Linked DNA regions of Homo sapiens: all the other regions are linked to region 1. Evidence: fine-mapped expression QTL. A gene starts in region 1. Each other region holds a variant in brackets. All regions are shown on one strand. Distances are between the middles of the regions.

Region 1 (8,181 bases):
TTGAGAGAGATGATTTAGGGTATCTGGCAGAAGAAATTTCTAAGCGGCAAAGCATTTGAGATGTGAGCTGGCTTTTTCTGAAAGTGTACAGTCATGTGCGTTCACAAGGAGATGATCTGAAATTGGAACTTATGTTTAAAAGCAAAGCAGGACATAAAAGTTTGGAAAATTTGCAGCCTGACTATGTGGTAGAAAACCCATTGTCTGGGGGAGAAATTCAAGCCATCAGCTGTAGAAATGTCTCCAAGACATTTCAGAGAGCTTCACGGCAGACCCTCCCATCACAGGCCCAGAGGCCTTGGGGGCAAAATCAGCTCCAGTCAGGGCCAAAAGGGGTCAAGGGACAGCCCAGGCGGAGCCCGTAGGTGTGCAGAAGACAAGAGGTGAACTTCGGGAGACTCTGCCTAGATTTCAGAGGATGTATGGAAACACCTAGAAGTCCAGGCTGAAGTCTGCTGCAGGGGCAGAGCCCTCATGGAGAACCTCTGCTAGGGCAATGCAGAGGGGAAATGTGGGGTGGGAGCCTCCACACACGGAGTCCCCACTGGGGCACTTGTAGGGACCAGCCCTACAGGGTCAGTGGGTCTTTCTCCCCATGTGCAGAGATGAGAGATCGTAGAAATAAAGACACAAGAGAAAGAGATAGAAGAAAAGACAGCTGGGCCCTGGGGGACCACTATTACCAAGGCGCGGAGACCGGTAGCAGCCCCGAATGCCTGGCTGCGCTGTTATTTATTGGGTACAAGACAAGGGGGCAGGGTAAGGAGTGTGACTCATCTCCAATGATAGGTAAGGTCACGTGGTTCACATGTCCACTGGACAGGGGGCCCTTCCCCGTTTGGCAGCTGAGGCGGAGAGAGAGAGGAGAGACAGCTTACGCCATTATTTCCGCATATCAGAGACTTCTGGTACTTCCACTAATTTTGCACCTGCTATCTAAAAGGCAGAGCCAGGTGTACAGGATGGAACATGAAAGCGGACCAGGAGCATGACCACTGAAGCACAGCATCACAGGGAGACAGGCCTCCAGATAACTGTGGGCAAGCCTGACTAATGTCAGGCCCTCCACAAGAGGTGGAGGAGTAGAGTCTTCTCTAAACTCCCCTGGGGAAAGGGAGACTCCTTTTCCTGGTCTGCTCAGTAGTGGGTGCTTTTCCCTTGGCACTGACGCTGCCACTAGACCACGGTCCGCTTGGTAACAGGCGTCTTCCCAGACGCTGGTGTTACCGCTAGACCAAGGAGCCCTCTGGTGGCCCTGTCCGGGCATAACAGAAGGCTCGCACTTGTCTTCTGGTCACTTCTCACCATGTCCCCTCAGCTCCCATCTCTGTACGGCCTGGTTTTTTCTAGGTTATGATTGTAGAGCGAGGATTATTATAATATTGGAATAAAGAGCAATTACTACAAATTAATGATTAATGATATTTACATATAATCATATCTATGATCTAGATCTAGTATAACTCTTGTTATTTTATATATCTTATTACACCGGAACAGCTCGTGCCCTCGGTCTCTTGCCTCAGCACCGGGGTGGCTTGCTGCCCACAGGCACTGACTAGTGGAGCTACGAGAAGGGGGACACTGTCCTCCAGACCCCAGAATGGTAGATCTACCAGCAGCTTGCACCCTGCACCTGGAAAAGCCGTAGGCACTCAGGGGCAGAGCTTCCCAAGGCCTTGGAAGCCCACCCCTTGCATCAGTGTGGCCCTGGATGTGAGACATGCAGTCAAAGGAGATTATTTTGGAGCTGTAAGATATAATGACTAACCCACTAGATTTTGGACTTGCATGGGGCTTTTAGCCCCTTTGTTTTGGCCAAATTCTCCCTTTTGGAATGGGACCATTTACCGAGTGCCAGTACCTCCATTATACCTTGGAAGTAACTAACTTGTTTTTGATTTTACAGGTTCATAGGCAGAAGGGACTTTGTCTCAGATGAGACTTTGGACTGTGGACTTTTGAGTTAATGCTGAAATAAGACTTTGGGGGACTGTTGGGAGGGCATGATTGGTTTTGAAATGTAAAAAGGACATGAGATTTAGGAGGGGCCGGGGTAGAATGATATGGTTTAGCTGTGTCCCCACCCAAATCTCATCTCGAATTGTAATCCCCACATGTCGAGGGAGGGACCTGGTGGGAGGTGATTGGAGCATGGGGGCGATTTCCCCCGTGCTGTTCTTGTCATAGTTCTCACAAGATCTGATGGTTTAAGTGTGGCACATCCCACTACCCCCGCCGCCATGTAAGACGTGCCTTGCTTCCCCTTTGCCTTCCGCCATGATTGTAAGTTTCCTAAGGTCTCCCCAGTCATGTGTAACTGTGAGTCAATGAAACCTCTTTTCTTTATAAATTACCCAGCTTCAGGTAAGTTCTTCATATTAATAGCAGTGGGAAAACAAACAAACACAGTGACCTTATTTGATCAAACATGATGATGATCGACTAAAGATGAGGTCACTAGGGTGGTCCCTAATCCAACAGGGATGTTGCAGAAGAGACCCACCTGGAGAAGGTCGTGTGAAGATGGAGGCAGGGATGGGAGCAGTGCATGAGCAAGCCCAGGACACCAAGCAGGCCTGGCAGAGCAAGACATGCGTCAACCCTCAGGGCTGCAGAGGGAGCATGGCCCTGCACACTCCTTGATTTTGCACTTCTGGCCTCCAGGGCTATGAGGAAACACGTTTCTGTTGTTTTTAAAACAGTTGTTGTTTTTAAAACCAGTTTGTGATGCATTGTGACAGAAGCCCCAGGAAACTCATCCATACTGAGTGAAATTTGTTTATTGTCTAAAATACAGTCCCTCCATCATCTATCCCTCCTATCATTTCTGGAATTTATAGACATCCAAGTCACTCCCCATATCCACAGAAGGCTCAGGCACCTGGTTCAGAATCCTCATTGTCCTGCCAGCTCCCACCAGCAGTCTGCAGCCTCGGCCCCAGCCAGTGTCACTTCATCCCATTCCCTGGACATCTGGTTCCAGGACCACAGCTCCATCCTTGGCGTGGTCCAGAACTTGCTCCTACCTCTCTCCCCCATTCTCCCTCTTTCTCCCCCCCATTCTCTCTCCCTCTCTTTCTCATTCTCCCTTCTCCTCCCTCTTTCTCCCTCCCTCTCTCTGGAATCTCTGGTTCCAGTTGCCCATCACTGACTACAGCTTGCAGCTGTCCAGGTATTTCTCATCTACATCCACTCAGCTCCCTCCCGGCCTCTGTTCTTCCTCCCTCAGGGGTATTCTCCCACTCACCAGCACCTGTTGGATCCGCGGCCATTTCTAACCGGACTGGATACTTGGACCTCAAGGTCCCCGCTGGTAAGATAGCTGGGAGACACTCGTCTGTAGGTCCCTCTGGCAGGTCTTGCTGGGCGTGCCAAGAACACATTGCCCTGACCACTCTTTTCTGGGCCATTTCTCACGCCTGTGCTTGCAGTGGGCACCCTTGCCGGGGAGACAGCCTCCCTGTGGGACAAAGACCACATTGGTCCACAGGATCCAGGGTCCTGTTTTGTAGTGCACCCGCTGTGGTGCAACATGCGTCTGGGCACACCAGCGTCGCCCGTTTCCTGTTGTAGTCTTTCCTCTCTGACTCCAGGGGTATTGGGTCTTTCTGCCAGCGCCCATGCAACTTTGGCAGCCTGGCCTGTCTGCTGGCAAGTGGGGCAGAATCCCTGCACTCCACCATTCTTGGGCAACACTCCCTCTAGGATTTTGGCCTCCCTTTTCTCTCTGGTCTTTGACCACCGCTACCCAGCAAACTCCTCCATCTAGACCAGCCAGCATTGGTTTCTTCCACTCCCCCAGCTGCCGCGTGGGAGGCGCCACTGCAAACTTCCCTGGGGTCTCCCAGCTGCTCAGAGATCCCCATGCCCTTCCCTGATCAGCTCCCTGCCCGGTTCTCATCCCGGCGATTCTAAACCGTCCATCTTTACAAATACTCCGCTCCATCCCCACTCCCTGACTGAAGTAAACAGATGTATCCTGAACTCCTCATTCTCCCCCCATCTCACTCTCCTCGCCTGTGTGCACCTCGCCTCGTGTGTCTTCCTCACCTCCGAGCAGAGGGATCTGTCCTCCTGCCCGAAGGTAACCCTGACCCCTGGACTCTGCGCCTCCTTCCCGCAGCCTCCACCAGATTGCGGGTCCGTTCACCGCCCCCCTCCACACGCGCTGGGGGCACCTCCGGGAGCTGGGGCTAGCGCAGGGCACACACATGTTCCACCTCGAACTGCGAGCGCTGACCGGGATCTCTGGGCAGCCCTCTCTGTGTGCACTGGCTTGCTGAAGGCTCGCGACAGCCTGGGCCCGGGCGCGCATTCCAGCACTTTCTACCCTCCGGCTTCAGAGTGCATTGCTCTGTGGATCCGTCACGAATAAGCCGTGTGTGAAGAACGCCAGGTCCCGGCAGAAGATCGCTGCCCGGCGTGCGAACTCCCCCACGGTGCACCAGGGCCGCCGCCCTGCATCCTCCAACCTCAGCTCCCCGGCACCGCGACCCTCCGTGCAGTGCGAGCCCCCGATGGGCGCGCGCCCCCACCTGCGCTCCAGAAGGCCGAAGGGGGCATCCCACTTGCAGGGCGGGTCACCCGCTTTCCCCGCGGGCCAAGGGGCTCCAAGATTCCCAGCCCCTCCTTCCCAGCCGCTCCGCGACACCCTGGCAACCGGCTTCGGCCCCGCCCCTTCTCGTTGTGTAAACAGGAAGTGAGCCTGCGCGTGACGGTCGCTTCCGGCCCGGCGAGGGGCGGGAGCGATTGTGAACGGCGGCGGGGCAGAGCCAATCGCGGAAAACGGCAGGAGGAGAGCCAATCCCGAGGGTCGGCGGACGCGGGAAGGGGCGGAGCCAGAGGCGGGGCCGGCAAGGCGGAGCCAATCGCGGCGGTCCGCGGGGCGGGGCCGGGGGCGCGGCCGGGTGGTGGCGGTGGCTGCGGCGACGGCGGTCGCGTCGGCGTCAGGGTCGGGGTCGGTAAGGGGTGCGGCAATGCTGCAACTGCGGGACTCGGTGGACTCGGCCGGTACGAGCCCCACGGCGGTGCTGGCGGCCGGCGAGGAGGTGGGGGCAGGCGGCGGCCCGGGCGGGGGGCGGCCGGGGGCGGGGACGCCGCTGCGCCAGACACTCTGGCCTCTCAGCATCCACGACCCCACGCGCCGCGCCCGCGTCAAGGAGTACTTCGTGTTCCGGGTGAGGCAGGGGCCAGGGCCGGGGCGGGGGCCGAGGGCGCGGGGCGGGATGGGGGCGGGTGGGGTCGGAGGCGGGCGCCGGGCGGTCCCGCAGGGAGCGAGCTGTGACCTGTGATCTTTGCCCCCGTCCCCCACCCCGCAACCCGCCCAGCCCGGCAGCATCGAGCAGGCAGTGGAGGAGATCCGCGTGGTGGTGCGGCCCGTGGAGGACGGCGAGATCCAGGGAGTGTGGCTGCTTACCGAGTAAGCCGGGGCTGCGCTCTCCTTGGTGGGGGGACTCGCCCCGAGCCGCCGCGCAGCACCTTGCGAGGACTTCCCGGGGTGCTCGTGCCACGCTCAGGCGCCCCGTGCCGCCCCTGCTGCCCTTCCAGGCGGGCTGGCCTTGGCTAAGTCGAGACAGCCGCGTCCAGTGTGGACTGAGGCCCCTCCTCTGCCTACAGGGTGGATCACTGGAACAATGAGAAGGAGCGGCTGGTGCTGGTCACGGAGCAGTCCCTGCTTATCTGTAAATACGACTTCATCAGTCTCCAGTGCCAGCAGGTGGTGCGGATAGCGCTCAACGCAGTAGACACCATTTCCTACGGAGAATTCCAGTTTCCCCCTAAATCGCTCAACAAGTAAGCCTGTTCAGAGTCCAGTATCACTGGACCTAAGCACCAGAGTGGACCTTACAATTCAGCCCTTTTAAATCAGCCCCCCAAGCGGTGTGTCTTCTCTGTCATTAATTATAAGCACAAAGGCTCCAGCTCCAAATATCAATGGGAAGTTCCTTAAAAAGAAGCGACTTCTGGGCAATTGAGTGCATTAAAAGGAATTCTGGCACAGAAGGCAGCTATTAGGCTGGTAGTAAAAAGACTTACATGAGTTCAGGATGCATTGAAGTAGAGCCCAGCGTGTTAAAAAGGAACTTGGATGTTCTTCAGGAAAAGTCCAAACTCTGCATTTTTCTCCAGCCAGGGACAGATTGCATATGACACATCAAGTCTTGCTCTGGCTAATTTTTTAAAGAGAAATGGAGGGTCCCGTTGTAATTTATAGATACCACTAAAAGACAAATTTGGAAATATTTAATGACCAGCTTTCAGGAGTTGATCTTTTTGCTGTAGGATAATTTTCTGACGTGAGGAACCTAAACATTACTACAGTCAGTTAAGCTGTAGAACTTGGGTTTTTGATGGAGAGATTTGGATGGGGGATTCAGGAAGCTAAAATAAAAATTTTACCTTTTGGTTAAAACATTTAATATGACATAAGGAAAAGGAAGATTACACTTCCTTTTCACTCATTTGGCTAGCCTATCTATAATTATTCCCTTTTTTTTTTTTTTTTGAGACGGAGTCCCACTCTGTCACCCAGGCACCAGTGGTGCAGTCTTGGTTCACTGCATCCTCCACCTCCTAGGCTTAAGTGATCCTCTCACCTCAGCCTCCCAAGTAGCTAGGACTACAGGTGCCCGCCACCACACCCAGCTAATTTTTGTATTTTTTGTAGAGATGGGGTTTTGCTAGGTTGCCCAGGCTGTTCTCAAACTCCTGGGCTCAAGAGATCCGCCCATTTTGGCCTCCCAAAGCGCTGGGATTATAGATGTCAGCCACCGTGCCCAGCCAGTATTCCTGTTTATTAATTTTTAATCATGTAAAGATTACCAAAATAATACATTTAATAACCAAAATATACCTAATTTGTCATATTTATACCCACAGTATTTAAAGCAATTGTTAGTGGAGATTGAAGTTACTACTAAAAACCACAGGCCGGCCAGGCACGGTGGCTCACGCCTGTAATCCCAGCACCTTGGGAGGCTGAGGCGGGCGGATCACCTGAGGTCAGGAGTTTGAGACCAGCCTGACCAAAATGGATAAACCCTGTCTCTACTAAAAATACAAAATTAGCTGGGTGTGGTGGTGCATGCCTGTAATCCCAGCTACTCCGGAGGCTGAGTTGGGAGAATCGCTTGAACCCAGGAGGTGGAGGATGCAGCGAGCCAACATCAGGCCACTACACTCAAGCCTGGGCAACAAGAGCAAAACTCCATCTCAAAAAATAAAAATAAATAAAAACAAAAATAAAAACTACAAGCCGTTTTCCATTGTGATATGTCATAGGTCTTTTCTGTAAACGTGTGCTTTTTGCTGTCATATTCTCCTAACTGATGAGACTGTCAGATTGTCCATGAGAGCACTGTGGCCTGCCATGCTAAGTCTGGCTATTTCTTCTGACTTTTCAGGCGAGAAGGTTTTGGGATTCGAATTCAGTGGGACAAGCAAAGTCGTCCTTCCTTCATAAACAGATGGAATCCCTGGTCTACCAACGTGCCCTATGCCACTTTCACAGAACACCCGATGGCTGGCGCAGATGAGAAGACAGCATCTCTGTGTCAGGTAAGAAGACAGGCACATAAATAGCCGCGCCCCCCGCAGTGATGGAAACACCCCCCGCAGTCACGGAGACACTTCAGGTCTGCACTGTCCGGCGGCCACGCGGAGCTGCCGAGCACTTGAGACGTGGCTAGAAATGAGAGAGGAAGCTCTCATTTTAGAGTTGATTCCCTAAGTTGTCAGAAATTCTGGTTAATTTATGTTAAAGTAGCCGCATGTGGCCAGTGGCTGCTGGTTAGCATAGCTCCATAATGTGGCCTCCTGATGGTGATCTGGGTGGGGAAGGGCCCCAGCTGGGCTTCAGAGAGTGGCAGCAGACCCAGCCGTGCCAGATGACCAGTGCGGATGCGCACCAGGAGAGGAGGCCTCGGGGCTGGGGTTAGAGCAGAGCCCAGAGCCCAGAGCCTGGCGGGGGTCCTGCACTTCCCCAGCTGTGTGCCTCGGCCTGGTTACTGACCTGGTAGGTTGGGTGACGGCAAAGCCACTCAGCCCTGTATACAGGAAGGGTTCTGCAGGTGCTGGCTGCCATTGGCCACAGGAGAGCATGGTGGCAAGATTTCCACACACCTAGAGAGCTCCGTGGGGACGAGAGTTGAGAGACCCCCAGGATGTGGCAGAGGCAGC
Region 2 (8,181 bases), 54 kb after region 1:
GCTTCCCAGGCAGGGTGCGGGGTGTGGCTGTGCGGTGGGAACACGGACTGGGGAGGGGATTGCAGCCGGGCCCGTGCCTCCCTTGCTCAGCTCCAGGTCAGGCCAGGGTAGAGCCAGGCTGCTGGGTTCGACCTCCACCCTGACCAGCTGTGTGCCCATGGAGGGCTGGTCTTCCCTCTCTGTGCATGTCTCCTGGTTGGTAACAGGTGTGTGGCCTCACTGGGCCGTCGTGGGGTGGCTGGAATCCCCGGGAATTAGCCATGCTTTGGTGTTTCTACATTTCACTTGGCTGAGTGTGAACTGACCCAGGAAGCTGGTTGGGGGCACCCCCACCCACGGGGGGTCGGGCATTTTGGTTTGGTCATGGCCTCAAAGCTTCTGGGGTGAGGCTCAGGGATTCCCCCAGACTGTCCTGGGCATCTGCCTCCCCTCCCCTCCCGCTTCCCGTGGGCCACGGCCCAGGAGAGAGAGGGCAGCTTGCTCAGGCACCTCCAGCTGTCCGCATATTTCACACGGTGCACGCTACCCCACCGTGGGAGGCTGTGTTTGTCTTTCATCCCCATGCTGGGCTTCCCCAAACTAGGGGAGTGGGGCAGCAGGCGTGCCATCTGTGGCGGTGAGGGGGGCTCTCAGCCGCATCCTCCTCACCAGGCCCTGCGGACAGGCCTTCGTCCCTGCCCCTGACCTGCTGACGAAGCCGTCCTGGCAACCCTGTCTGAAGGACCTGGCCCCATCGTACCCACAGAGGGAGGCCACATGGTCCTTAGCCTCTGTCGGGAGGGGCAGGCAATGCTGGCAGAGGGCCTTGCCCCTGAGAGGGAGGCCCTCCTGGCCCTCACTCCGGGGGACCCCTGTCCTTGGCCCCAGCCTGCCAAGCGAGAGCGGCCCCTCTTCTTGCGGTGGCTGGAGGGGAGAGTGAGGCCCCTTGGCACAGAGGGCCCCAGGAGGCTGGGCTCTGATGACGCCCTGCAGGAATTCCGCTGGGCTGCTGCCTGGGAGAGCCGCTGTCTCACACAGGGCCAGCCTGCCTGGCTTCATTCTGGTGCGCTGACCGCCCGACCCCTCTGCCCAGGCGGGGGCTCTTCTGGGTTCTGGGTCCTGGGACCTGCCTGAGTCCCTGGGAAAAGGGCACAAGGGGATTGAGACGGTCTCCTCCCACAATGGCCCAGGTGTCTCCTCCCACAATGGCCCAGGTGTCTCCTCCCACAATGGCCCAGGTGTCTCCTCCCACAATGGCCCAGGTGTCTCCTCCCACAATGGCCCAGGTGTCTCCTCCCACAATGGCCCAGGTGTCTCCTCCCACAATGGCCCAGGTGTCTCCTCCCACAATGGCCCAGGTGTCTCCTCCCACAATGGCCCAGGTGTCTCCTCCCACAATGGCCCAGGTGTCTCCTCCCACAATGGCCCAGGTGTCTCCTCCCACAATGGCCCAGGTGTCTCCTCCCACAATGGCCCAGGTGTCTCCTCCCACAATGGCCCAGGTGTCTCCTCCCACAATGGCCCCAGGTTTCTTTGCCACTTCAGATTGGAATCGTTGATCTGCTGAAATAACAGGTAAAATCATTGGTGGTTTGGGAACCACCGGAATCAGAAGTGCATTGAGATGTTTGCTTTAGGGGTGGCCCGGGGCGGGTGGAGTTCCTGGGGGCTTTTCCCTCCTCCCTGAATGGAGGAGGACACCCTGCACCCCTCCTGTGATCCCCCTTAAGAGCCAGTGTCCGGGATGGCTGGGCCAGACGGGGCAGAGGGGCCTGTGTCTCCTGCCCAGGCTGAGTGCGGACGGCTCGGTCTCAGAGCTCCACCGAGGGGTGGGTAGGTAACAGCAGCCCTGCGGCCAGGGCCCCTGCAGGTGGGAGTGGGTGTCCCCATGGGGAGTGCCTCTTCCAGAGTGGGCTCAGTCGGGGTGGAGTGTCCTGGCTTATCAAAGGTGGTTGTGGAGCCCTGTCTGCCCCAGGCCTGGGCAGAGGTGGAAGGGGTTGGGGAACTGACGAGGCCTTACCTGTGGGCCCATGGCCAAGGAAATGTCTGGTCTCCCACCTCCTGTCAGGTGGTGAGGGGAGAGGATGGGGCGTCAGCCGGAGACGGGGTTCCTAGAGGAGGCTGGGTCCTGGCCTGGCCTGGAGAGATAGGGATGAGATGGGAGGGCAGGAAGGGGGTGGTAGACAAAGGCTGAACACAGAGAGCACATAGCCAGGCATGTGGGGACTGGGGACAGGGGACAAGGAGGGCACCCATGGGGACAAGAGATAGGGAGAGGACAGAGGGACAGGAGACGGGGAGGGACAGAGGATGGGGGACAAGGAGGGGACAGGAGGACGGGGACAGGGAGGGGACACAGAAACAGGAGCTAGGACGGGGACAGAGGATGGGAGAAGGAGAGGTCAAAGGGACAGGGAACAGGGAGGGGACCCATGGGGATAGGGCAGGGATCTATGGGGACAAGGGACAGGGAGGGGACAGAGAAACAGGAGATGGGGAGGGGACAGAGGGATGCAGACAGGGAGGGGATAGAAGATGGGGGGCTAGGGGACAAAGGGAAAGGGGACAGGGAAGGAACCTATGGGGGACAGGGAGACAGGGGGACAGGGAGAGGACAGAGGAACAGGGGACAGGGAGGGGATGCTTGGGGACAGGGAGGGAATGCTTGGGACAGGGCAGGGGGACAGGGGGCTGTGGCTTTCGTGGGAAGCTATGGAAGACGAGGCCAGAGGGGTTGGGCAGGGTGAGATGAGAGAGGCTGAGAGCCCCTCACCGGCTGCGGACTCCTCCCCACAGGGCAGAGGGGAGCATTCGGGTGCGGCCAGGCCATCAGAGGACCTGGGCTTGGCTGGAGTCCCAGCTCCTCAGCCCTCAGTAGCTTTGGGCCAGCCACTGGGCCTCCTGGCCTCCACTTGCTCATCTCTGAACTGGGGCAGGGTTGGCGTGTGAGCCTGAGGCCCTGCAAAGTGCCTGGCCAGCCTCAGCTCGGAGCCATGGCACAGCACCCCCTCTCCGCCACGGCCCCGACAGCTGGGCGTGCGTTCTGCTGTGGGCAGCTGCCCTGAGCAACGTAGGGTGCTAAGCAGCATCCCTGTCTTGCACACTAGATTCCACAGCACCCTCTGACCCCGTGGAAAATGTCCCCACATGGGAATATCCTCTGGGGGTGGAACTGCCCCTGGTGAGAACCCCTAGGCTGAGACCTCAGAAGGCCCTGAGTCAAACCGAGAAGTCATCAGAGAGCCTTGTTTTCAGCTCCAGGGAGCTTGGGCAGGCTGGTTTTCTGGGCCACACAGTCCCCTCCCCAGCCCACCTGTGCTCCGTGGGTCCCGGGGAAGCTGTGGGGGCCTAATTGCTGGTGTGAGTTCCTTTCCTGTTCTGAGTCACACGTGTGTGGGGGCTCTCCCTGTGGTGCAGCTGGTACAGCGGCCCCTGGAGTTGAGGATCCAAGCAGGCTGAGGTCTGGGTTTGCCGGAGGGCCCTCGGTGGCTGGTCTTTGTCCTGCTCCCACTGCTGTGGGCACTGTAGGACTTGGAACGCTGGTCACCTTTCCAGCCTGGCAAAGGGAGGGGACTTGTCTGAGGCCTCATGGAAGTTGGGGCAGGGTCGAGGTGCCCTGCTTCCTGGGTGTGCCAGCAGCCTACAGCCTGGCTACAGCGTAACCAGGAACACCCAGCACAACTGTCCTTTGCAACTCTGTGCCCTGACTTGATGGTGCCAGGGCTGGGGGGGTGCCGGCCAGCAGCTCCCCAATGACCACCCCCAAATGCTGTGGCCACACAAAGCCTTCCACTGCAAGACCTGTGGTAATACACACTGGA[C/G]GCCCCTGTTACAACTGAGAACTCATTTATTTCATTTCCTTCCTTCCCTTTTTTTTTTTTTTTTTTTTAGAGTTGTGGTCTAGCTCTGTTGCCCAGACTGGAGTGCAGTGGTGCAATCATGGCTCACTGCAGCCTCGAGCCCCTGGGCTCAAGTGATTCTCCCACCTCAGCACCCTGCGTGGTTTGGACTGCAGGCACATGCCATCACGCCCTCATGCCCAGCTAATATTTTTTTAAGTTTTTGGAGAGCTGAGGTCTCCCTGTGTTGCCCAGGCTGGTCTCAAGCCCTTGGGCTCAAGTAATCCTCCCTCCTTGGCCTCCTAAAGTGTTGGGATTACAGTTATGAACCACTGCACCCAGCCCATCCCTCCTAGACTAAATCTTCTTAGAAAAACCTACACTTCCAATAATGTATTTGCATTTTATGATGTTGATAAAACTTCCTAAAGATGTCTTATGAAATTGGTCTCCTTTCCCCATTGATACACATGATTTTTAAAACTATTGGCAACGTTTCAAAAGCAATTTCTGTTTTGTCCCAGAACCGTGATCCCCTTGTGAACGAATTTTCAAATTAAAAGGCAAATGGTTGGGAAAATTGGATTTAATTGAAAGGCCATTTTATTAGAATTGACTTATTTTTCTCGCCACTGGGATCCTTGCCTGAAAGGCGGCTGTGGGCAGAGGGCACATACTCCCCCTGCCCCAGCGCAGCGTCCCTGCACCCCCAACAGAGCTTCCTGTTCCTCATGCCCAGTACTCCCAGATGCCTGCGGAGCCAGTCATCAGCTCAGGTGTGTGAGGCCGGTTGGGGGAGCCCCTGCCTGGCGCCTGTGCCTGTGAGCAGTGTTCCTGTGGGGCCCTGGGACCAATGCTACCAGCGTTGGCGTTTTCCCAGGAAGTTGGGAATCAGGCATCTCGTGGCTTCCGGTTCAAGTTCCTCCGTGTGCTTTAAGTCTGGGCAGGTTTCCGGGTCCTGGTTTTGGCTAATGAGGAACCCGATTCCCATGGGGGAGGCCGGTGGCTGCAGCAGGGCCCCGAGCAGTGGCAAGGCTGGCCCTCATGACAGTGTCCTCCTCAGGGGGCCTGTCCCAGGCTCTTCATGACTCCCCTGGAGGCTTGTTAAAGGGGCAGATTCCTGGGCCCTGCCCCAGCCCCACTGTGGGGAGGGGTGTCCTGGAAGATGCATCTGCCCAGGGCTTCCGGCTGGTCCACACGCCTGCACCTGGAGGCCCACTGCCCACATCTCAGGCAAACAGGCCTGGGGATGTTTGGGGACCCAACTCCTGGCGTGGAGGAAGCCCCTTTCCCACCCCACATGCTCCTGGTGGTGGCCTGTCCTGTGAGCCTGGAGGGCCGGACGGGTGGGATCGGGGACCCACGACCACGCTCGCTGGCCTCTGTCCTGTGCCCAGGCAGGGATGAGAGGCCAAGCTGGTGTCCTGCAGTGCACAGTGGGTGCCGGTCAGGGGATGTGGAAGCTGGGTCTCCGGCAGGCAGAGGCGCGCTGACAAGAAGGGTCGCTGTTCCTCATTCAGGGTTCAGTGGGAAGAGAGGGTGTCGCTTCAGGGGGAGTTCACAGGATGCCGACTTGAAAATACAGCCAACGCCCATGTCCCAGGCATAAGATCACAAATCATGTTTTGCCGACCAGTTCCTGTGAGCCCTGAGCCCTGCGCGGAGGGATGCCCCGTGCACACCTGTTCACGGAACCCCTGGACCTCCAGTAGGGGTGCGGCGGGATGCCGTCGGCTCCCACGCTGTCTGTCTCCCTGTCCCTCTCTCTTTCCCTCTGTTTCTCTGTCTGTCTCTGTCTGTCTCTGTCTCCCTGTCTCTCTCCATCTCTCTCTGTCTCTCTCCCTGTCTCTCTGTCTCTGTCTCTCTCCATCTCTCTGTCTCTCTTTGTCCTTGTCTCTCCCTGTCTCTGTCTCTCTCACTCTCTGTCTCTCTTTGTCCTTGTCTCTCTGTTTTGTCTCTCTTTGTCCCTGTCTCTCTGTCTCTGTCTCTCTCTCTCTTTGTCCTTGTATCTCTCTGTCTCTCTTTGTCCCTGTCTCTCTCTGCCTTTGTCTCTCTCCGTCTCTCTTTGTCCCTGTCTCTCTCTGCCTTTGTCTCTCTCCGTCTCTCTTTGTCCTTGTCTCTCTGTTTTGTCTCTCTTTGTCCCTGTCTCTCTGTCTCTGTCTCTGTCTCTCTTTGTCCTTGTATCTCTCTGTCTCTCTTTGTCCCTGTCTCTCTCTGCCTTTGTCTCTCTCCGTCTCTCTGTCTCTCTTCCTGTCTCTCTCTATCTCTTTCCCTGTCTCTTTCTGTCTCTCTTTGTCTCTCTCTTTGTCCCTGTCTCTCTGTCTCTCTTCCTGTCTTTCTCTTTCTTTGTCCTTGTCTCTCTCTCTCTGTCTCTCTCTTCCTGTCTCTATCCCTGTCTCTATGTCTCTGTCTCTCTTTGTCCTTGTTTCTCTCTGTCTCTCTGTCTCTGTCTCTCTCTGTCTTTGTCCCACCTTAGCCTTGGGAGGGGACAGCTCACAGGCTGACAGATGAGGTCATGTGTCCTGAGCATGAGGTTTTCAGGTCTCACCCACGCTGTAGCATGTCAGAGCTTCGTTCCTTTTCATGGCCGCGTAATGTTCCATTGCTTGCTGGCACCACATCTCCTGTGCCCGGCCCTCTGCTGATGGGCGTCTGGGCTATGTGCACCGTTCAGCTACCAGGAATGGTGCTGCTGTGAAGGGAGCTGGGATTTTGTCATCCACCTGCTGTGGATGGCAAGTCCATTTCCATCTCTGGACTCAGGTGGCCCATCTACAAAATGAAGGGGATGCGACCCAGAGGCCTCTGGCGGCAAAACCTTCCCAGGCTTGTCCTCTTGGATCTAAGGGAATTTCTTTCCTCCGAGTCCAGCCCCTCCAGTGCTCCTGCCCTTCAGGAAACATGCCTGGGACCCCTCACTTGTGCCCACCCAGCCTTGGCCCACATACCTGCACCAAGAGGCTACCCTACTCATACTGCTCAGCCCAAAGGGACCCACCGTGGGGTATGGGCAAGGGCGGGTTCTGCTCTCCCCCGGGGCCCTGTGCCAGCCTCAGCTGGACCTGCGGTTCTGCTTCCTGTCACACTCTCCCATTTTAAATTAACGGAATGGTGCGGTCCCCATGCACACCCTCAGCTCCACTGGGGTTTTAGCCCAGCCCAGGATCGGAGGCCTGCAAGGGCACACCCACCTGGCCACGTGATGGTGAAGTGGGGTGGGGCAGGGCAACCAAATTAACTTCTAATTCTAAGAGCCCCTGGAGCATTCATCACCAGCACTTACAGCCGTGTGACCTCACACAAGTCACTTAACCCCTCTGAGCCTTGGGGCTCCTGAAAAGTGGATGGAGCGGTCACGCCCACCTGGGAGAGGTGGCTTGGGCCAGCACCCTCTAAGCTGCTTGTCCCAGGCCATCATGGCTCACGGACCGCCCCTCAGCCTGGCCTGTGCCACTTCTCCAGGGCCCGGCACGTGGCAGCCACAGGCTTCTATCAGCTCCCGCCTGCCTGGGGAAGGACAAAAACGACAGGTTCCAGGCCATGGCCTGCACCCCCGCTGGCCGTGGGCAGGTCCAGGCCTGCCTGCCTGAGCATTGCAGGGCGGTGGCCAAGCCTGTCCCATAGCACCTCACCGAGGACCTGGGAGGCTGGCCCAGGGGAGAGGTCACCTCAGCCGGGGCTGGGGGCTGTGGGCAGGGTGGGCTCGGGTTTCCCTGTCCCCTCCCCCAGCTGTGCTCTGCCTGGACACTGCCACCTCCTCATGGGTGTCCAGGGCCACTGGGAGCTGGGCCCAGGGGTTCTCAGGGGAGCAATGGTGGAGACAAAGACCAGCGGACGGGCGCTGGGGTCAGAGCTCTCCAATCCCTGGGTGTCTCCTTCTCAAGGCGTGACCACCCAGGCAGTGGCCGGCTGCAGGACAGGGCAGCTTCAAGTTCCCAGCCTTGCCAGGCTTCCCTGTGGCCCTGGGGTGCAGGAAGGAGCCCCAGCTCAGAAGGCGAGGGGGCGTCTGTGTCCTGCAGCAGTGGGCACAGCTAGGCTCTAGCCGGGGGCTTGGCTGCAGCCTCCAGCGCAGCCCTCACACACGCTGTTCCCAAGATGGGGTGACCGGGACCGGAGCCACCTCCAGGTCCCGGGCATCAGGGAGACCCCAAACCTGGCTGCATCCCCCAGGCCAAACCCAGACACAGGGGATCGTAACAGACCACAGGCCTCACACACTTGTTCCGGCCCAAGCATCCCCCAGGCCAAACCTAGACACAGTGGATCATAACAGACCACAGGCCTCACACGCTTGTCCCGGCCCAAGCATCTCAAAGAGTCTGCTCTCCTGAAGGCCCTCAAGGCAGCCCCAGGAGCGGGTGTT
Region 3 (8,181 bases), 470 kb after region 1:
GGATGAAAACATGGGAAGATGGTCCTTCCCACGAGTCAACCCTGTTCATTTTCCACAGCCAGTTCTGCTGCTGGACTCTTCCCTGACTCCCTGTAGAAGGGCCTCCTTCCCACGCATTCCATGCCCCTCTCTTTCAGCAGTGTCTCAGGGGCTGGATGTGGGATGCAGATCCTGATGCAGCTACTCAACAGCTGCTGACCTCAGTTTCCTCATCTGTGAAACGAGAGTGATTGGGCCCCAGCTTCCTGGGATTGTGGTGAGAAATAAGTAGGATACTGAGGAGTCCTCCAGGCATGGGATTTGATTGGGACAGAAGTTCCATCCACCCAACCTCTCTTGTACCTTCCCTGTATTTGCCAGGGTGCAAACCAGGGACTTCACACTCCTGTGTCAATCATGAAATGTCTCTCCCCTCCTCCTTCTTCTTTCCAGCACCCACCTTCCTTCTCTGTTTGATCAGTGGTCCCGAGGGAGAGACTGCAGGTCTTGGGTGTGGGGAGGCAGGGAGCTGCAGGGGACTGGAAGGGTTTGGGAGGGGTAAGTGGGTGGGAACCCTAGGATCTGGGGTGGGCTAAAGGTGGGGCATGGGTAGGTGGGGCCAAGGTGGGGTCTGGCCTCTCACTGGGAGGGAGATTATCCATTTACTTATTCATTATTTGTTCAGCAAATATTTCTTGAGAACCTTCCAGGCACTGGGCACTGGAAGTCAAGGGAAGATGGGGTGCAGGCTGCCCCAGAAATGAAGACAGGGCATCCTCATGGATTTCTTCACCGAGGTGGGGGCAGGGACTGCAGAGAAGCTGGCTCAGTGGACCAAGGCACCTGAACACACACCTGCTGGGCTGTTAGGGAAAGAGCCCCCGGCCAGGGTGGACACTGGTGTCTCTCAGCCACCGCAGGCCGTGGGGGTGGGAGGTGAGGCCAGGGAACACTCGGGGCACAGACACGAAGCCCAGCCCAGCTTCACCTGCTCCTTCTCCAGCCCCTCTGGCCTTCACTGTATCCACCCATTTGTTGTCAGGCTGACAGTGACTTTAGTGGGTCAAATAATGACCCCACAACATTCTCATCTGCCTGGAACCATAGAGTATGAGCTTATTTGGGGATTGGGTCTTTGCAGATGTAACTGGTTAAGGTGCAGTCATACTGATTAGGGGGAGCCCTAATCCAATGACTGGAGTCCTTAGAAGAAGAAAAGATCTAGAAACACACAGGGAGAAGGCCACATGACTATGGGGCGGAGACCAGGTGCCGTTGCCTCAAACCAAGGAACATGGGACATTTCAGCAAACCACCAGCAGCTGGATGAGGCTGGGGCAGATTCTCCCTCCCAGCCTCAGAAGGAACCAGCCCTGTACACACTTGGATTGTGGACTTCTGGCCTCCAGAACTGTAAGAGAGGAAATTCTTGTTGTTTTAAGACACTCAGTGTGTGATACTTTGTAGAGAGGCACTGGCCCCCTGACATCCTGCCTCTATGAGCTGAGCATGTGCAGAGGCTGTCAGAGGAGCAGTCCGCGTCCCTGGGCAGAGGACCTCCCAGAATTCTGACCTATGGAAACTGTGAGACAGTAAATGCGTGATGCTTTTTTTTTTTTTTTTGAGACGGAGTCTCGCTCTGTCGCCCAGGCCGGACTGCGGACTGCAGTGGCGCAATCTCGGCTCACTGCAAGCTCCGCTTCCCGGGTTCACGCCATTCTCCTGCCTCAGCCTCCCGAGTAGCTGGGACTACAGGCGCCTGCCACCGCGCCCGGCTAATTTTTTGTATTTTTAGTAGAGACGGGGTTTCACCTTGTTAGCCAGGATGGTCTCGATCTCCTGACCTCATGATCCACCCGCCTCGGCCTCCCAAAGTGTTGGGATTACAGGCGTGAGCCACCGCGCCCGGCCTGCGTGATGCTTTCAGCTGCTAAATTTCTGGTAATTGGTTAGACCACATAGAACAATGAATACGATGAGGCACATAAACATTTCCTTAAGAATATTTTTTCTGTCTCTGTAGCTGAAAAATTGATGCTACTATGCCGGAAGCTTTTTCCCTGCCAGCCCCCTCCCTGCCCTGACTTGGAACACGAGTTCGGTGATGCTGAGAGTGGGTGAAATGTGTGTGTCATACTTTGCTTCTTGAGAGGCTGATTGGTGAGACAACTGGGGATTGGCTGGGATGACATCATCTTTTATTTATCAGAATTTCACACTTAGATGTCTGTAAATAAAACATTAGAGAAATAGTGTGGGTCTAATCACAGGCCAGAGGGGTCACTGTTCCCAGAGGAACCAATGAGCTCAGTGTGAGGCAAAGCTGCTGCTTCCCCAGGAAAGGACATTTCCCAGAGGTGGACACTCCCTCGGGTCCCAAGCCAGTAACCCTCCTTTCCACACCTGCCTCCTCAGAGGAATGGGACTGTGCCATCTTGGTACCAACTCCTGACACTCTCAGGTGGTAACCATGGGCAACACTTTCGCCCACTTAGATTTATTAGGAGAACCTGAGAAGCCCGAGAGCAAATGCAAAATCAAGTCACCAGGCAAACAGAACCAAATCAACGTTGTACTGGGGCAGAATCCCCTGGGAGAAGAAAGGGAGCTCAGGGTGGCCAAGAGGTCGGCACAAAGAATGTGAGGCAGCAGTTCCATCACCCTGGAATCCTGGGACCAGCTGCGGCCATTCACACATTCCTCCAGCAGGCTGAGCCTTGCTGCCCGTAGGTTGATGGGCCAGGTACAGGGTGGGTGGGAATGGGGGTGCATTGGACACCGTACCTGATAACTGGACTCTTGAGGTCCCTGAGTGAAGAGCCCACAGGGTAGTAGTAGCTGACATTTATGTAACCCTCTGTAGATTCTGTCTTGGTGTCACCTCTTTTATTGCTAATATTGGTAATTTATGTCTTATCTATATTTTATGTGAACAGTCTGACTAGAAGTTTCAAAATTTTGTTTACCTGCTCAAAGACCCTAGCTTCTAATCTCATCAATTTCTATTGTTTTTCTGCTTCTCATTTCATTGATTTCTACTCTGGTCATTATTATTTTCTTTTAGTTACTTAGGGTCTAATTTGCTATTCTTTTGCTGATTTCTTAAGGGGGAAGCTGATGTCAAAGATTAAAGGTCTTTCTT[C/T]TCTCTAAAGTAGGTATTTCAGTGCTATCAATTTTCCTCCAATTACTGCTTTGGTTGCATCCCACAATTTAGATAAGTTATGTTTAATTTTTATTACCAATTTCCAGTTTTTCTTTTGATTTTTTTCTTCAACCCATGGGCACTTTTGAAGTATATTATTTGATGTCCACGTATTTGTGAGTTTTCTTGATATTTTTTCTCTTATTGATTTCTAGCTGAATTCCACTGTAGTCGGAGAATGAATGTACTTTATACAACTTGTGTGTAGGGAAAAGCTCTTTCAAATGGTGCTTTTCCTCTACTCTCACACCACAACAACCGTCAACACAGAAGAGACTTCTGTGACCAAATGTGTGTGGGTTTTCTCCATGCATCAAGCAGCAGACACCAGCTGGGTGTCCTCCAATTCAGTTCTGACACTGTCTACCCGGAGATAGCACCAGATCCCACAGGGTGAGGGATCCATCCCACAGGACAGTCCCCTCCCCACCCACAGTAGCAAGTCTAGGCCTCTGGAAGTTCTGACCACCTGGCTTCAAGCTGGGGTTCTCACAAACCCTTCTTTGGATTTGATTGATTTGCTAGAGCTGCTCACAGAATGCAGAGAAACACTTGTGCTTACTGGTTTATTAAGAAGGATATTTTAAAGGATATAAATTAATAGCCAGATGAAGAGATACACAGGGCAAGGTCTGGAGGGGTCTTGAGCATGGGAGCTTCTGCCCCTGGAGTTGGGGCACACCACCCTCTGGACACATGAATGAGTTCTTCACCTTCCTGTTGGCCTCCAAGTATTCAACTCTCCGGAAGCTCCTGCACCCTAGTCCTCTTGGGTTTTTATGGAAGCTTCATGTAGTTAGCACTTCTTCCCCAGGGATAAGGTGGGACCCTTTTTGGGGAGAGTCTTAATACCCACAATCAGAAAGGTGGGGGAATATTAGAGTCGTGCCTTGGGGCAGGTGAAACGAGGGCAGGAGAAGATCACAGACTTTTTCTTTCCTGAGGCCTACCCCTGAGGCCCTGACACACCCAGCTTTATGGTAAAAGACAAGAGTTATGGGGCCAGGCGCCGTGGCTCACTGCCGTAATGCCAGCACTTTGGGAGGCCTAGGTGGGCAGATCACCTGAGGTCAGGAGTTCGAGACCAGTACGGCCAACCGTGGTGAAACCCTGTCTGTACTAAAAGTACAAAAATTAGGCAGGCATGGTGGTGCACATCTGTAATCCCAGCTACTTGGGAGGCTGAGGCAGGAGAATGGCTTGAACTCAGAAGGCGGAAGTTGCAGTGAGCCGAGATCGTGCTACTGCACTCCAGCCTGGGAAACAGTGAGACTCTGTCTCAAAAAAATAAAATAATAATAATAAAAAAAAGAGCTATGGGAGTTATGAGCCAAGAACCATGGACAATAGCCAATACATATCATAACACCATGTATTAGGCTATTCTTGTATTGCTATAAAGAAGTACATGAGACTGAATCATTCATAAAGAAAAGAGGTTTGATTGGCTAACAGCTTTGTGGGCTGTACATGGAGCATGGTGCCAGCATCTGCTCAGCTGCTAGTGAGGCCTTGGGCTGCTTACAATAATAGTGGAAGGCAAAGGGGAGCTGACATCGCATGTGGGGAATGTGGGAGTAAGAGAGAGGAGGGAGGTGCCACACACTTAAACAACCAGATCTCAGGTGAACTCACTAAGGGAGAACTCATTCATCACCAAAGGGATGGCACCAAGCCCTTCATGAGGGATCTGCCCCATGATCCAATCACCTCCCATCGGGCCCCATCTCCAACATTAGGGATGACATTTCAGCATGAGATTTAGAGGGGGCCACATCCAAACTCTATCGCACCACAGCTCGTATCTTTTGAAATCCATTGAAACTTGTTTTATAAATGAGACTATGGTCTATGTCGGCAAATTTTCCATGCGCACTTGAAAAGAGCATGCGTGGTGCTGTTGGGTGGAGTGCCTTTTAAATGCTAAGTAGATCAACCCAGGTGATAGTGTTACTCTATATCCTCATGGATTTTCTGTCTACTTGTTCCACCAATTATTGAGAAAGGGGTGTTGACTATAATTGCCATTTATCTCTCTCCTTGCAGCTCCTTAAGTTTTTGCTTCAGGGATTCTGAAGCTTGTTAATTAGGTATATGGATGTTTAGGGTTGTTATGTCACTTTGAGGAACTGACCTCTTGATTGTGATGAAATTACTGTCTTTATCCTTATTTTAGTATTCTTTGCTCTAAAATCTACTTGTCGGATATTTGTATAGCCGCCCCAGCTTTCTCATGGTTAGTATATTTTTTTGCATCCATTTAATTATAACTTATTTGTGTCTTTATACTTGAAATGAGTTTCTTGTAGGTTTCATATTGCTGGTGAACTCTTGCTTTTAAATTTTTAATTTGTACATGACATGTACATAATCTGTACAAAAGATTTGTACATGACTTGTATAAAAATTATACAAATAATTTTTTTATGATTTCTATACATAATTTGTCGTTTTCTCTGGTTGCGGTTTGGTTATGATATCCCTTGGTGTCATTTTTTGTCATGTTGCTTGTTGATATGGTTTGACTGTGTCCCCACCCAAATCTTAGCTTGAATTGTAATTCCCATAATTCCCATGTGTCCTGGGAGGGACCTGGTGGGAGGTAATTGAATCACGGAGGTGGTTTCCCCCATGCTGTTCTCGTGACAGTGAGTGAGTTCTCATGGAATCTGATAGTTTTATAAGCATCTGGCATTTCCCCTGCTGGCACTCATTCTTTCTCCTGCCACCCTGTGAAGAGGTGACTTCCATCATGATCGTAAGTTTCCTGAGGCCTCCCTAGCCATGCAGAACTGTGAGTCAGTTAAACCTCTTTTCTTTATAAATTACCCGGTCTCGGGTATTTCTTCATAGCAGTGTGAGAATGGACTAATATACTTGTACCTGGGGTTCATTGAGCTTCTTGGCAGTTTTCATCAAATTTGAATAATATTAGGCCAGTATTCCTTTACATGTTTACTATCCACCCTCCCTCTTATAAAAGTAAGACCCACAATTGCATCCATATTAGGCTATTGAAATTGTCTCATGGTCCATTGATACTTTGTATATTATTTTCAGCCCCCTTTCCATGACATTATGGGTGACTTATATTTCTATGCCCTGAAATTTATATATATATATAATTATAATATATATAATATATATATTATAATTATATATATTATATATAATTATATAAAATATATATTATAATTATATATATTTTATATAATATATATATTATAATTAATATATTATATATAATATATATATTATATATAATATATATATTATATATATTATATATAATATATATAATATATATAATATATAATATAATATATATATTATATATAATATATAATATATATAATATATTATAATATAATATATATAATATATAATATAATATATATAATATATAATATAATATATAATATATAATATATATAATATATAATATAATATATAATATATATAATATATAATATAATATATAATATATATAATATATTATAATATAATATATATAATATATAATATAATATATATAATATATAATATAATATATAATATATAATATATATTTAATATATTTATTAATTATTTGTTATATATTTATTAATATATAATATATAATATATTTAATATATTATAACTATATATTATATTATAATTATATATATTATATATATACAATTATAATTATATATTATATATACTTATAATATATATAATATATAATATATAAATATAATATATGTATTATATATATTATGCTATTGATCTCATCCAGTGCAGTTTTTCAGAACTGATATTGTAGTTTTCATCTCTATAAGTCTGAATTGGTATTTTTCCTTCTGTATCTGTATATACTGAGACTGTGTTCAGTCTCTTTCCTCTAGCTTCTTGAACACACGAGATAATGTTATAGCAACTTTTAATGTTTTCATCTACTAATTCTATAATCTGTGCTATCTCTGGGTAATATTTTCCTGCTTCTTTGCATGTCTGATAAGTTTTGATTGCATGCCACACACTTGAATTTTGCCTTATTGCATGCTGTATATTTTTGTGTTCCTATAAATACTCTTGTGCTTTTTTCCAGGATATGGTTGTGTTACTTGGAAACAGTTTGATCTATTTGGTCTTGCTTTCAAGCTTTCGTACGCGGGCTCAGGGTAGTGTTTCATTGAGGACTATTTTGCCCCAATACCAAGGCATAACCAAGGCATAGGACCTCTGAGTGTTCTCCCCTATGGCTCATCAATTATGAGGTTTCCCACGCTGGCTTGTGGGAGCAGGCATTATTCTTGATCTGGTTGGAGCTCTAGAATTGTTCCCCTCTAATTCTTTCAGGGTATTTTTCCCTGGCCTCAAGTCATTCTCTCACTGGCATCCATTGGCAAGTACTCAATACGAGATGTTAGGGAGACCTCAGCCAATCTGCAGGTCTCTGCTTTCTCTCTTGTCTCTGGCACTCTGATGCAGCCGCCTCTGCCTTCCTGGACTTTTTAGCAGAGTCTCCTCAACTCAGAGGCTGCGGGATCTGCCTGCATCCCCCTCCCCTGCTGCTGCCTGGAAACTCTGTCCAGGTGGTGAGCTTGGGCTTACACTCTTGTGTTTCTCATTTCTCAGGGACCACTGTCCTTCACTGCCTGATGTCCAATGTATTGAAAACTGTTGCTTCATATACTCTGTCAGGTTGTTTCAGCCAGGGTGTAACCTGACCCCTGTCACTCTATCTTGGCTGCCCCTTATACGGTACAGCATCTAAATCTCTGCTAGAAAATATCCTCCACCAGGAACTACATCCTGTGGGTCTGTACCTCCCCCAAGCCCCCACGCACCTTACTGAGCTGATTCTTCATGCATTTTTCCTGAAAGGCTCAAGGCGTCTCAGAAGTGTGGGGGCTGATGCCAGTCTTTTCTAAGTGTGAGATTCATCTTCCCATTTGCCTGACAGCCTCCAAGGGCTTCCTGCATTTTCCCCATGGTGTGGAGCTCTGACTCGAGTC

What was found.
Region 2: its variant is fine-mapped to the expression of TPRG1L in whole blood (TOPMed, PIP above 0.99).
Region 3: its variant is fine-mapped to the expression of TPRG1L in whole blood (TOPMed, PIP 0.97).

What each region holds. Positions count from the first base shown.
Region 1 is chr1:3,620,094-3,628,274 of GRCh38, forward strand. TPRG1L (tumor protein p63 regulated 1 like) reads left to right here and starts at 4,922. Exons shown (of 5, transcript NM_182752.4): 1 at 4,922-5,180; 2 at 5,331-5,422; 3 at 5,620-5,796; 4 at 7,407-7,560. The coding sequence starts at 4,980. It also overlaps a transcript of MEGF6 not described here. RefSeq lists enhancers at 4,196-4,315, 5,296-5,958 and a silencer at 4,766-4,995.
Region 2 is chr1:3,673,843-3,682,023 of GRCh38, forward strand. All of the region lies in intron 1 of TP73 (tumor protein p73), which reads left to right. Among named protein-coding and RNA genes, the nearest start is that of TP73-AS3, 9.0 kb to the left of the region's middle. RefSeq lists enhancers at 1-86, 6,847-7,582 and a silencer at 6,390-6,557. The variant C/G (reference allele first, on the strand shown) is at 3,801.
Region 3 is chr1:4,093,511-4,101,691 of GRCh38, forward strand. No RefSeq gene overlaps it. Among named protein-coding and RNA genes, the nearest start is that of LINC02780, 120 kb to the left of the region's middle. The variant C/T (reference allele first, on the strand shown) is at 3,122.